Regions from separate parts of the Homo sapiens genome. Here region 1 is linked to region 2. The links come from fine-mapping of genetic effects on gene expression. Tissue or cell type: whole blood. Region 2 holds a variant in brackets; the other region holds the start of a gene. All regions are shown on one strand. Distances are from middle to middle.

What was found. PIP is the estimated chance that this variant, and not a neighbour inherited with it, causes the effect.
Region 1: ARID4A starts here. The variant in region 2 is fine-mapped to the expression of ARID4A in whole blood (INTERVAL, PIP 0.94).

The regions. Positions count from the first base shown.
Region 1 is chr14:58,295,654-58,300,882 of GRCh38, forward strand. ARID4A (AT-rich interaction domain 4A) reads left to right here and starts at 2,902. Exons shown (of 24, transcript NM_002892.4): 1 at 2,902-3,047; 2 at 4,145-4,207. The coding sequence starts at 4,202. PSMA3-AS1 (PSMA3 antisense RNA 1) reads right to left here and starts at 2,484. Exons shown (of 4, transcript NR_029435.1): 1 at 2,302-2,484. RefSeq lists enhancers at 2,132-2,855, 2,152-2,571, 2,592-2,641, 2,752-2,841 and a silencer at 3,472-3,991.
Region 2 is chr14:58,361,610-58,366,838 of GRCh38, forward strand. ARID4A (AT-rich interaction domain 4A) reads left to right here. Exons shown (of 24, transcript NM_002892.4): 20 at 2,561-3,691; 21 at 3,909-4,013; 22 at 4,415-4,621. Among named protein-coding and RNA genes, the nearest start is that of TOMM20L-DT, 31 kb to the right of the region's middle. The variant T/C (reference allele first, on the strand shown) is at 2,182.

The DNA.
Region 1 (5,229 bases), 66 kb before region 2:
CTCTATTAAAAATACAAAAAATTAGCTGGTGTGGTGGCACGCGCCTGTAGTCCCAGCTACTCGGGAGGCTGAGGCAGAAGAATTGCTTGAACCTGGGAGGCAGAGGTTGTAGTGAGCCGAGATGGTGCCACTGACTTCAGCCTGGCGACAGAGCGTGACTCTGTCTCAAAAATAAAATAAAATAAACATGAAATAAACAGAGAGTAATAAGTCATTACCAAAAGAACAAAGCGAGAAATGCCCATTAAAATGATGTATAACATAACCACATTTATTTAACAACGTAGTCCAACATCAAATGGCAAATTCCAATAATGCAAAAACCACGATTACTTTTGCAACGACCTTCTTAGACACAATATTTTGCAAAACATGTACAAGGATATTCACTGACATATTACTGCCATTATAGAAAAATAAACACGTTACATAAATTATGATATATTTATCCCACAAAACACTATGAAGACATAAAAGATGCTTTACGATAAGATATTTCCAATATTCCCAATGTTTTCTATAAAGAATAGACGGTAATGAACAACACTAGAATATTTGGTAAAACAAAACCAACAAAAAAGACAAAGCCTTTTGTATAATATATAACTATAGTGTAAACCGTAACTACCTTTTGGAGGAGGGAAGACATTTTTGTATTCTTCTTTGGGCTTTTTAATAATTTCCAAATGTCCATGCATTATTTGGATTCAATAATAACAGTTTAAACTTTGATCGTAGAATTATGGATGCTTACCCCCTAGAAAATTCAGTAATATATTGTTTTATAAGGTCTTTTAAAAAACTGCTTCACTCCTACGAGATTGCGCCACTGCACTCCAGCCTCGATGACAGAGAGAGACTCTGTCTCCAAAAAAAAAAAAAAAAAAAAAAAAAAAGCCTCACTCCTAAACACTCCCATTTACAAGATCTTTTCTATATAAGAACTTTTTAAATAGGCGGGTGGGGGGGAGGAAATCACAAAAATACGCATAATGTTTTATAACAAAAACATGAGGTATATCAAAGTCCAGAAATGAGAACCACGTAAATGGGTAAACAAGTCCATAAGGATGTCCTAATTTTGGGATTTCATTCTAAAATATTACACTAGAAAGCTAATTATACAGACTCATTTGAATCTGACCAAACAAAACATCTTTTAACTACCCTTCCTCCCATTCTGGTATTTCTTTACTAATCCATAGAAAGTTTTTCCAGGTAGTCCCCCGCAATTCTAAGGATTTTTAGACTTTATGACTCACCTCAGTAATCACTGAGATGTTCTGTTTTCTTCAGCACAACTGCCAAAAAACCCAGTAATTGTTAAGTCACACAATCATTTTCTAGTTATGGGCGCCACCAATATAGCAGTAGGGTTTAAAACAGAGGTATTGAGGGTAACTATTAGGATCTATCCAGTGTGACTAGGTCACTCACTAGAAATGCCAACATGCATTTCACGTTTTTATGAATACTTTTGAGCAAAATTACTGTTACGAATAAAAAACTGATTCTGCTCGGCTGTTTTCTTACTGAGAAAATTTAGTCCACGTGGATTACTGACGATATGTCACATTTTAAAAATTACTCCATTCTATAAAACTAGTCAATTTTATACTCCAATTCCGCTATTTAAAAATGTGTGTTTCGTTTAACAGAATATAAGATGTTAACAGAAAAAGATCAACGTCTATCTTATCGGGGACGTCCTTTTGTCTAAGATGTTTTCAGTCCCTGCAAAACCACTGTTTGCTTTCAAAAAGTAGCATAAGCCTCGTGCAGAGTGACAGACCCTTGTCTAAGGTCACAGAAGAAGCGTCTGCGCTGGCAAGTAAATTCCTCAGCATCCAGAAAGCCAGCGCTTTCTCCAGTTTCCTCATAGCTTTATCCCGTGAGGAGCACGCGGAAACCTCTACCCATGCAGGATGTTTCTAAGAACCACTTCTTCCCTGTCTTAACTAAGAAGGCTCCCACAGCTGGTGCCAATCAGGTGGAGAACATGGCAAGTCCCCGAAATGCACTTCCAAAGACAGGAAAGATTGCAGTGGGACAGAACCCAGAAAATCTCTCACATTCTCGAAAACCCGAAAGAGAACCTCCAAGAAAGACGTTTGCCTCTCCTCCACCTCTTTATCTCGGCGGGAGAGGAAGCCTCGCCCCCATTCATCCCGCCCCTTCTCCCCACCCCGCCGCAGGGAGAAGTTTACCATGGCTGCCTGCGGCCCCTTCACTTCCGGTGCCGGTGCCGCTAGGGCTGCGCCATCCCCCCAGTCAATCGGACAACCATAGCCTCCAACTGACCTTTCTGACAGCTCTGAGACTCCTCCGGCCACGACTAGGTGCTGTCCTGGAGGAAACGGTGGAGGACGGCCGCACAAAAACCAATCTACCTGATGAAAACTCCGTTCCCTTCTCGCCAGAAACATAAAATGCGATGGAGCTACGGCCACCGCTGCCGAGACAAAATGGCGCCGACAAGCTGGTTTAGCGCAAGCGCCTTGGACAGACCCTGCCCCGCCCCCGTGCAAGCCCCTGGCTGCAATTCTGGGTTCCGTTTCCATGGGACACTCCGCCGCCAATCCTCGTGTCGAACTGCTCTTCCTGACCCCTCAATTCACCAATCAGTGCCCAGTCAAGCACATCCGGAGTCGTCTCTACCAATCATTTCTCAGGACTTGCTTACTCAATAACCAACTCTCCAATAAAGTTGGTTTTCGGAAAAAGCCAATCATAAGTGGAAGATGTCCTACCTGCTGTTTTTCTCACCAATCCATGAAGTTTCACAGCTACATCCAATGAGGACGGCAGGTAGCGAGGTCCTATCCGAAGCTCTTCGGCGTCATGAGCAGCCAATAGGAGTTCGTGTAGAAGCGAGTCTGCTCAACAGCTTGTTATTTGGTGGATTGTGGCAGTAAATCGGGGCGAGTGGGGAACCCGGCGCAGGAACTGCAGCCGCGGCTGGGAGTGGTGCTGCCCGGACGGGGGCCCACGGAGGTCAGAGGGGAGGAGGACTCTGGAGCTGACAGCGCGCACTTCACCCGCAGTTGGTAGGTGGGGAGAGGGGAATCCGGGGATACTGAATGGACGAAGTGGCAGTAGCAGCAGCTGCTGCTGCCCGAGGTCCCGGTGCAGTTGGAAGCTTTGGAGGTGGGGAGAGGGATGCTAGGCAAGTGGCACGGCGAGCGCAAGGGAAGGGGCCAGCCATTGACCAGCGGCAGCAACTGCAGGAACCGCCGCCGCAGTTGCAGCCGCCTCCTCGTCCGCTTCCTCGGGTTCCCGGGAAAATGGCTGTGGGGCTGGCCGCGCCGCTAAGTTTGCTTCCGCGCGGTGAAGAGCGGGCTGCTTGGGGGAGCCGTCCCCCAACTCCGCGGCGCGTCCACCTCTGCGGAGTCCGTGGCAGGACTCGAGGGGCTACGAGCTGATACCTCTCTGGGCTGTACAAAAAGTTGAGGCGGGCGCTGGGAGGAGGCAGCGGCTGCTGCGGTGCGGCTCCCCTCCCCTCCCACACCCTGTCCGGGCCACCTCCCCTCCTCCTCCCCTCCGCCCCCCGCCCCCTCCCCCACGCGGGTCCCCCGGGGCTCTGGCGGCTCCCGGCTGAAGGCCGCGGCCCCTGCCCCTTTGGGTGAAGGAGCGCTTCTCCTTTCTGACATGGTGCAGAGCGAAGGAAGGAGAGCAATGGCGCCGTGACACTCCGCTGCCGCCACCGCGGGCCCGGGGCGGGCCGAGGGGGCCGAGCGGCGGAGGCGGGGCGCGGGCCGAAGTCGGGGTATCCGGGGGACCGCGGAGCGGAGGCTCGGCGGTCGTCTCCGCGGGGGACCTGGGGAAGCCCGAAGGGAGCTCTGGCCTTTTCCGGAGCTATCTGTCCTGGAGCTCCGAGTTGAGCATTCCGGGTCAAAGTGGCCAGCGAGGCGGGGGCGCGGTGGGCCGCTGGCGAGCTCCGGGGCGGAACGGGCTGCCCTTTGGCGCTCGTGGGGTTCTCGCTGCCCCCTCAGCTCCTGCGTCCTGGCTGCCCTCGTAAGGGGTCTTGTCCCTTGGCTGGTGAGGATTCTGCCCCTCCCCGCTGGCGTTTGTTTACTTTCTTTCCCTTGGTCGCTCCCCGCAGTTGACTGATTATGTCTGTGCCTGTCTTTCCCCCTCCCCATAGTTCTAGCGACTGCGAAGATAGCTCGCTGAGCTGGAACCCCACAGATCACCAACAAAAATGAAGGTAAGTGGAGTCAACTCTGCCCCGATCCTCGCGCCCTGAACACTGCCAATCCTAAGGCTAGTGCCGTGGAATGTCATTTGTTTTGCTACTCAAAATTGATGTTCCTACTGATCAGCAGTTTCGGCATAGGAGGATGTGTTGAATGGGTGAAAAATGATCTGTGTGTCTAAATGCGGAGTTTAGGCCCTCTCTGTAGCAGTACTTTGGAAAGGCTGGTGCAGCCTTTCAATTGTTGTCCATTCGGATAGTATTTTTAAACACTTCCTGTGTTGGCAGCAACCTTTGCAGAAGTAAAGCTTTTGTCCTGCTTTGGTTCTTTGGGGGATTTTTTGTAAATTTTTTTTCTTCCCGTGTGCCAATGCGATTTTCTAAAAGAAAGAATACGTGGATTAAGTAATGAAGGTATCATTTCTTCTGTGTGTAAAATGAACTTATGTGGCTAAAATATTTGAAGTTGAAGTATAATAATAGTTTTAGTTAAATCTTTCCAATAAGTATTTTAAAACATATACTAAAAAGATACATATTCTACTGAGGATGACTGCAAATATCAGTATGTGGATGGTTAAAGGGAAAGGATCTCATATAGCGTTCTTGAATGCTGTGGCCATTGAATGTTTCAGGTCAGATTTTTGTTTGCCAAAAGCATTCCTATTCAATTTGTATTTTTTGTAAATGCACTTACTTTAAAAGGTACCCAATTCCTGTCTTATTTACTGTTTCAGCATATTAAGCTCTGAAATATAGCATTTTCCCAAACTTTCTCGTGGTTTTCTATTTTCTCGAAGTAAATGACATATTTAACCTTCTTTAATATTACTTGGGAAAACTTATTAGAAAACAAAAAATCATTTTCTACTTCAAAACGTATCTCCAAAGTGTACACTGTTAACTTTGCACTTAACAATGTTAAGTTGAACTTGTATGGATACACTTTAACTTCCGGAAAAAAAAAAAAAAGGTAAAATGACAGATTGAGATAGCAATCATCCTGTTACTGTAAAAATTAAAATGAGTGGTAG
Region 2 (5,229 bases):
CAAGGTAGCATCACTAGAATACCTGTATCAGCTGCTAAACAACAGCAAAAACAAACAGCAGGCTTTCAGTCTCCACCTACGATGCTGTGTTTTCATTAAAAGGTTACCCGTACACTAGCTTGGGGTTGCTGAAGAAACTGTTGTGCACCTGTGTTTGGATGCAATGTGTCCCATGAGGTCAGGTCTGGAATTTTTTACTTGTGGTGTCATGTTGGTGCCCAAAAAGTTGTGGAATTTGCAGCATTTTGGATTTCAGGTTTTTGGACTAGGGGTGTTCAACCTGTAAATCACCTAGGATTTTAATCTCATATGATTTAAACTATAAAATTTGATTTGAAGAAAATATTTTGCTGTATCATTTTTATCTAAAATTTAGTGATGTTTTCATTTAGGAATACTTTTTCTCATAAGTATCTTGAAAATAATATATTTTAATAGAAGGTGAATTGACAATCCATGCATCCTAATGTGTGCTACACTTTCCCTCAAAGCCTGTACCAGTGTATCCTATAAATTCAATGCTGTTCATCTGGGATCTTTCAGCAAAGCTGAGACCATGTGGTTCTAAGAGAACACAGACTACTGTGGTGCAGGCATGTTTTATAATGAGTATAGGTGAACATATTTTATTCTGCTTGTACTCGTTTCCCCCACTTTTCTACCTCTGTATACTTTTAAATGTAATTAAGAAATTTTAGGCTGAGTGCAGTGGTTCATGCCTGTAATCCCAGCACCTTGGGAGGCTGAGGCAAAAGGATCACTTGAGCCCAGGAGTTCCAGACCAGCCAGGGCAACATAGTGAGACCCCATCTTTACAAAAAAATTTAAAAATTAGCCAGGCATGGTGGTGTGCACCTGTGGTCCCAGCTACTCAGGAGGCTGAGGTGGGAGGATTGCTTGAGTCTGGGAGGTCAAGGCTGCAGCAAGTGTAATCACATCACTGCACTCCAGCCTGGGTAGCAGAGCAAGACCCCACCTCACTCTGTTGCCCAGGCTGGAGTATAGTGGCGCAATCTCAGCTCCCTGCAACCTCCACCTCCTGGGTTCAAGCAGTTTTCCCACCTCAGTCTCCCAAGTAGCTGGGACCACAGGTGTGCACCACCATACCTGGCTAATTTTTGTATTTTTAGCAGCAATAGGGTTTTACTATGTTAGCCACGCTGGTCTCGCACTCTTGACCTCAAGTGATGTACCCGCCTCAGCGTCCTGAAGTGCTGGAATTACAGGTGTGAGCCACTGTGCCCGGCCACCAAAAAAGAAATTTTAAATGGTTGTCTTATATAAAAATTTCTCTTCTTTCAAGAAAAAAGCTATACTGAACTACATGTTTGCTATTAGTCCATATGGTGCTTGTGTGCAAATTATAAAAGGACATCCTTCCTCTTTACTGCCATCTGCTGACAAATGTTTAAGATGTCCACAAAGTGAAAGGTACCCTCTTAGAAGGCATACCTGTGTGCAGTGTCCAGTCTATACAACTACATACCAGCCTTATTAAACTACCACTGAAAGGGATTTTTTAAAACATGAAAATGAATTCTACATTCTGTTTATGATAAAACCACAAAATAAAACTGTATACACCTTTTCACTAAAAAATTCATGTTTGCAGTTTTGAACTTCTTGAGGATTTGAGCACCATGTGGACAATATTTTTATATTTTTTAGATCCTATACAGTCTTAGAACCCTACTTTACTATTTTACAAGTTCCCTTACAGGGAACAATTTTTGTTTCCTGTACTTTCTTGTCTGTTAAGAATATTTAAAGTTTTGAGGATTCCAATTGCCCATTTTAAAAACTTTTCTTGCTGGGCACGGTGGCTCATGCCTATAATCCCAGCACTTTGGGAGGCTGAGGTGGGCGGATCACTTGAGGTCAGGAGTTTGAGACCAGCCTGGCCAACATAGCAAAACCCCATCTCTACTAAAATACAAAAATTAGCCGGGCGTGGTGGCCTGCGCCTATCCCAGCTCCTCAGGAGGCTGAGGCAGGAGAAATGCTTGAATCCAGGAGGCGGAGCTTGCAGTGAGCTGAGATCACGCCACTGCACTCTAGCCTGGGCAACCAAGTGAGACTATGTCTCAAAAAAAAAAGAAAAGAAAAGAAAAAACCTTTTCTTTCCACAGTTATTTTAAGTAGAATGTCATATTCCTTTCTTAGGGTACAAAATGCCCATCA[T/C]CTGTCCTTCCTAGATACTATCTCAAACCACTTAACAAATTAACTTCATGTCTAGGATGTCTAGGTACTAATCTTTTGATCTTTTTTAAGGACTATTGTACCTAAATATGATACTGGGGAATGTTGCAAAATAGCTTTTCATATAGATTTGAGTTAGTAATATGCAACGTAATATATTTTTGCTTGGAGCTTAGTTTCCCCTCCCCCTCAAATTCTTGGCACAAATGTTATGATTTGTTTTATTTCAGAAATTTCTACAGGGAGGTATTCAGAGGTACATGATTAAAGATTTTTATTGTTATTTTTGGTAAGATTTTTATTGTAAAATTACATTGGTAATATAAAAACCTGTATAATATAATAATATTTCCTCTTACAGACTCTTGTTCATCTGATAGTGAAACAGAAGATGCTTTAGAAAAGAATTTAATAAATGAAGAACTTTCTCTTAAAGATGAACTAGAAAAAAATGAAAATTTGAATGATGATAAGCTAGATGAAGAAAATCCAAAGATTTCTGCACATATATTAAAAGAAAATGATAGGACTCAAATGCAGCCTTTAGAAACCCTGAAGTTAGAAGTTGGAGAGAATGAACAAATAGTACAGATTTTTGGGAACAAAATGGAAAAAACAGAAGAAGTTAAGAAAGAAGCCGAAAAATCTCCAAAAGGAAAGGGAAGACGAAGCAAGACAAAAGATCTTTCTTTAGAAATTATAAAGATTTCATCATTTGGCCAGAATGAAGCAGGAAGTGAACCTCATATAGAAGCTCATAGTCTTGAATTGTCTTCATTAGACAATAAAAACTTTTCTTCTGCTACAGAAGATGAAATTGACCAATGTGTGAAAGAAAAGAAGTTGAAACGGAAAATACTAGGACAATCATCGCCAGAGAAAAAAATAAGAATTGAGAATGGAATGGAAATGACAAATACTGTATCTCAAGAAAGGACCAGTGATTGTATTGGATCTGAGGGAATGAAAAACTTAAATTTTGAACAGCACTTTGAAAGAGAAAATGAAGGAATGCCATCATTGATAGCAGAGTCAAACCAATGCATCCAACAACTGACTAGTGAAAGATTTGATAGTCCAGCTGAAGAAACTGTAAATATTCCACTAAAAGAAGATGAGGATGCAATGCCTCTGATCGGGCCTGAAACCTTGGTTTGCCATGAAGTAGATTTGGATGATTTGGATGAAAAGGATAAGACCAGCATTGAGGATGTAGCAGTTGAAAGCTCTGAGTCTAACTCTCTTGTTTCTATTCCACCTGCCCTACCTCCTGTAGTCCAACATAACTTTTCAGTAGCTTCACCACTTACTCTTAGTCAAGATGAGTCTCGAAGCGTAAAAAGTGAGAGTGATATAACGATTGAAGTTGATAGTATTGCTGAAGAATCTCAAGAAGGTCTCTGTGAGAGGGAATCGGCAAATGGATTTGAAACTAATGTTGCCTCTGGTACCTGTAGTATAATTGTACAAGAGAGAGAGAGCAGAGAGAAGGGTAAGGACTTTCTAGGGAAAAGTAAGTGTTTATATGAAACCAAAAATCAAAACTGTTGAGTTTCAGGTACTGTTGATCTGTAAAGTACTTTCTTTTTCTTTTCTCTCTTCTTTTCTTATTAAAAAGAAAGAAATGTCAGTGTAGTCTGTTGAATAATATACTTGCTCTTTTTTTTTTTTTTTTTTTTTTCAACATTCTCTCTTTCCCCTTATTTCAGGTCAGAAGAGGCCAAGTGATGGAAATAGTGGATTAATGGCAAAAAAGCAAAAGCGTACCCCAAAGCGAACAAGTGCTGCAGCCAAAAATGAAAAGAATGGAACAGGTTGGTGTCTTTCAATGCTAGCTTTTGTATAGTGTTAGTATTTTTAGCAGTTTGTTGGCTTGTTTTAAACATAAATGGAGCAATACTATATTGTTTTATAACTGCATTTTCATTTAACAGTATTATACTAGATATTTTGCCATTTTTATTCTTAGGAACTCTAGCTCATTCTTTTTAACAACTTTAGGAAAGTATTCAATAGTTTATCATTTTTAACCATTTCCCCGTTGGTGAGCATTTAGGTTTTTTTGTTTTTTTGTTGTTTTTATATTGTTATAAACTTTGTGCATTTGTGCACTTATTTCTGTAGGATACCAAGAAATGTAATTGTTAGGTCTGTTGCATTTTGATATTTAAGAATTTTATTTATAATCTGAGTCAATCTTTTTTATTATTTATAGGACAAAGCAGTGATAGTGAAGATCTTCCTGTCCTAGACAATTCAAGTAAATGTACCCCAGTAAAGCATCTTAATGTATCTAAGCCACAGAAACTTGCACGATCTCCTGCAAGAATATCCCCGCACATCAAAGATGGAGAGAAAGATAAACACAGAGAAAAACATCCGAATTCATCCCCTAGGACATATAAATGGAGCTTTCAGCTCAGTAAGAAGCTTATAGAAAACTTGATAGATGAATACTGTAAAGTGGAATAGATCTTAAAATATCAACTTGGATTAATGTTAATAAAATAAGGAATAATGATTAACTATTTAGATATTCCAAATATTGCCTTAGCAAGAATCACCACATGTTGTCTTAAGTATAAATCTGTGTCTTTTCATAAAACTGACTTGATAAATATTGACTTACAGGAAGGTCTCCATTAAGAAGCCATGTATGATTTATATAAATCAGTGAAATTGAAGTGCCCTTTGTAGCACTAACAATTAGAAATAGCCAGTAGTTATTTCTATTATGTAACTAGTAGTAGTGAAGAAAATGTCAATACAGGGAAACTATTCTGATAACTATAATTATAGATAGGTCAGGGTTAGTTTGTGTTGATGTTTTCTTATGTTTTTCTGATCATTTAAGTAATAAATGTTTAGTATAGAAAATTTGGGATCTAAAAATAATTCTTAATCATGAATTTAATTCACGACTTCCTTGTTTTCAGTCTTATTCAGCTTACTGTAGGAGATTTTAATAAACTAAAGCTTTTGTTGATTTATGAGTTAGACGTTTGATAGAATTGTCATCATTTTTCTCAC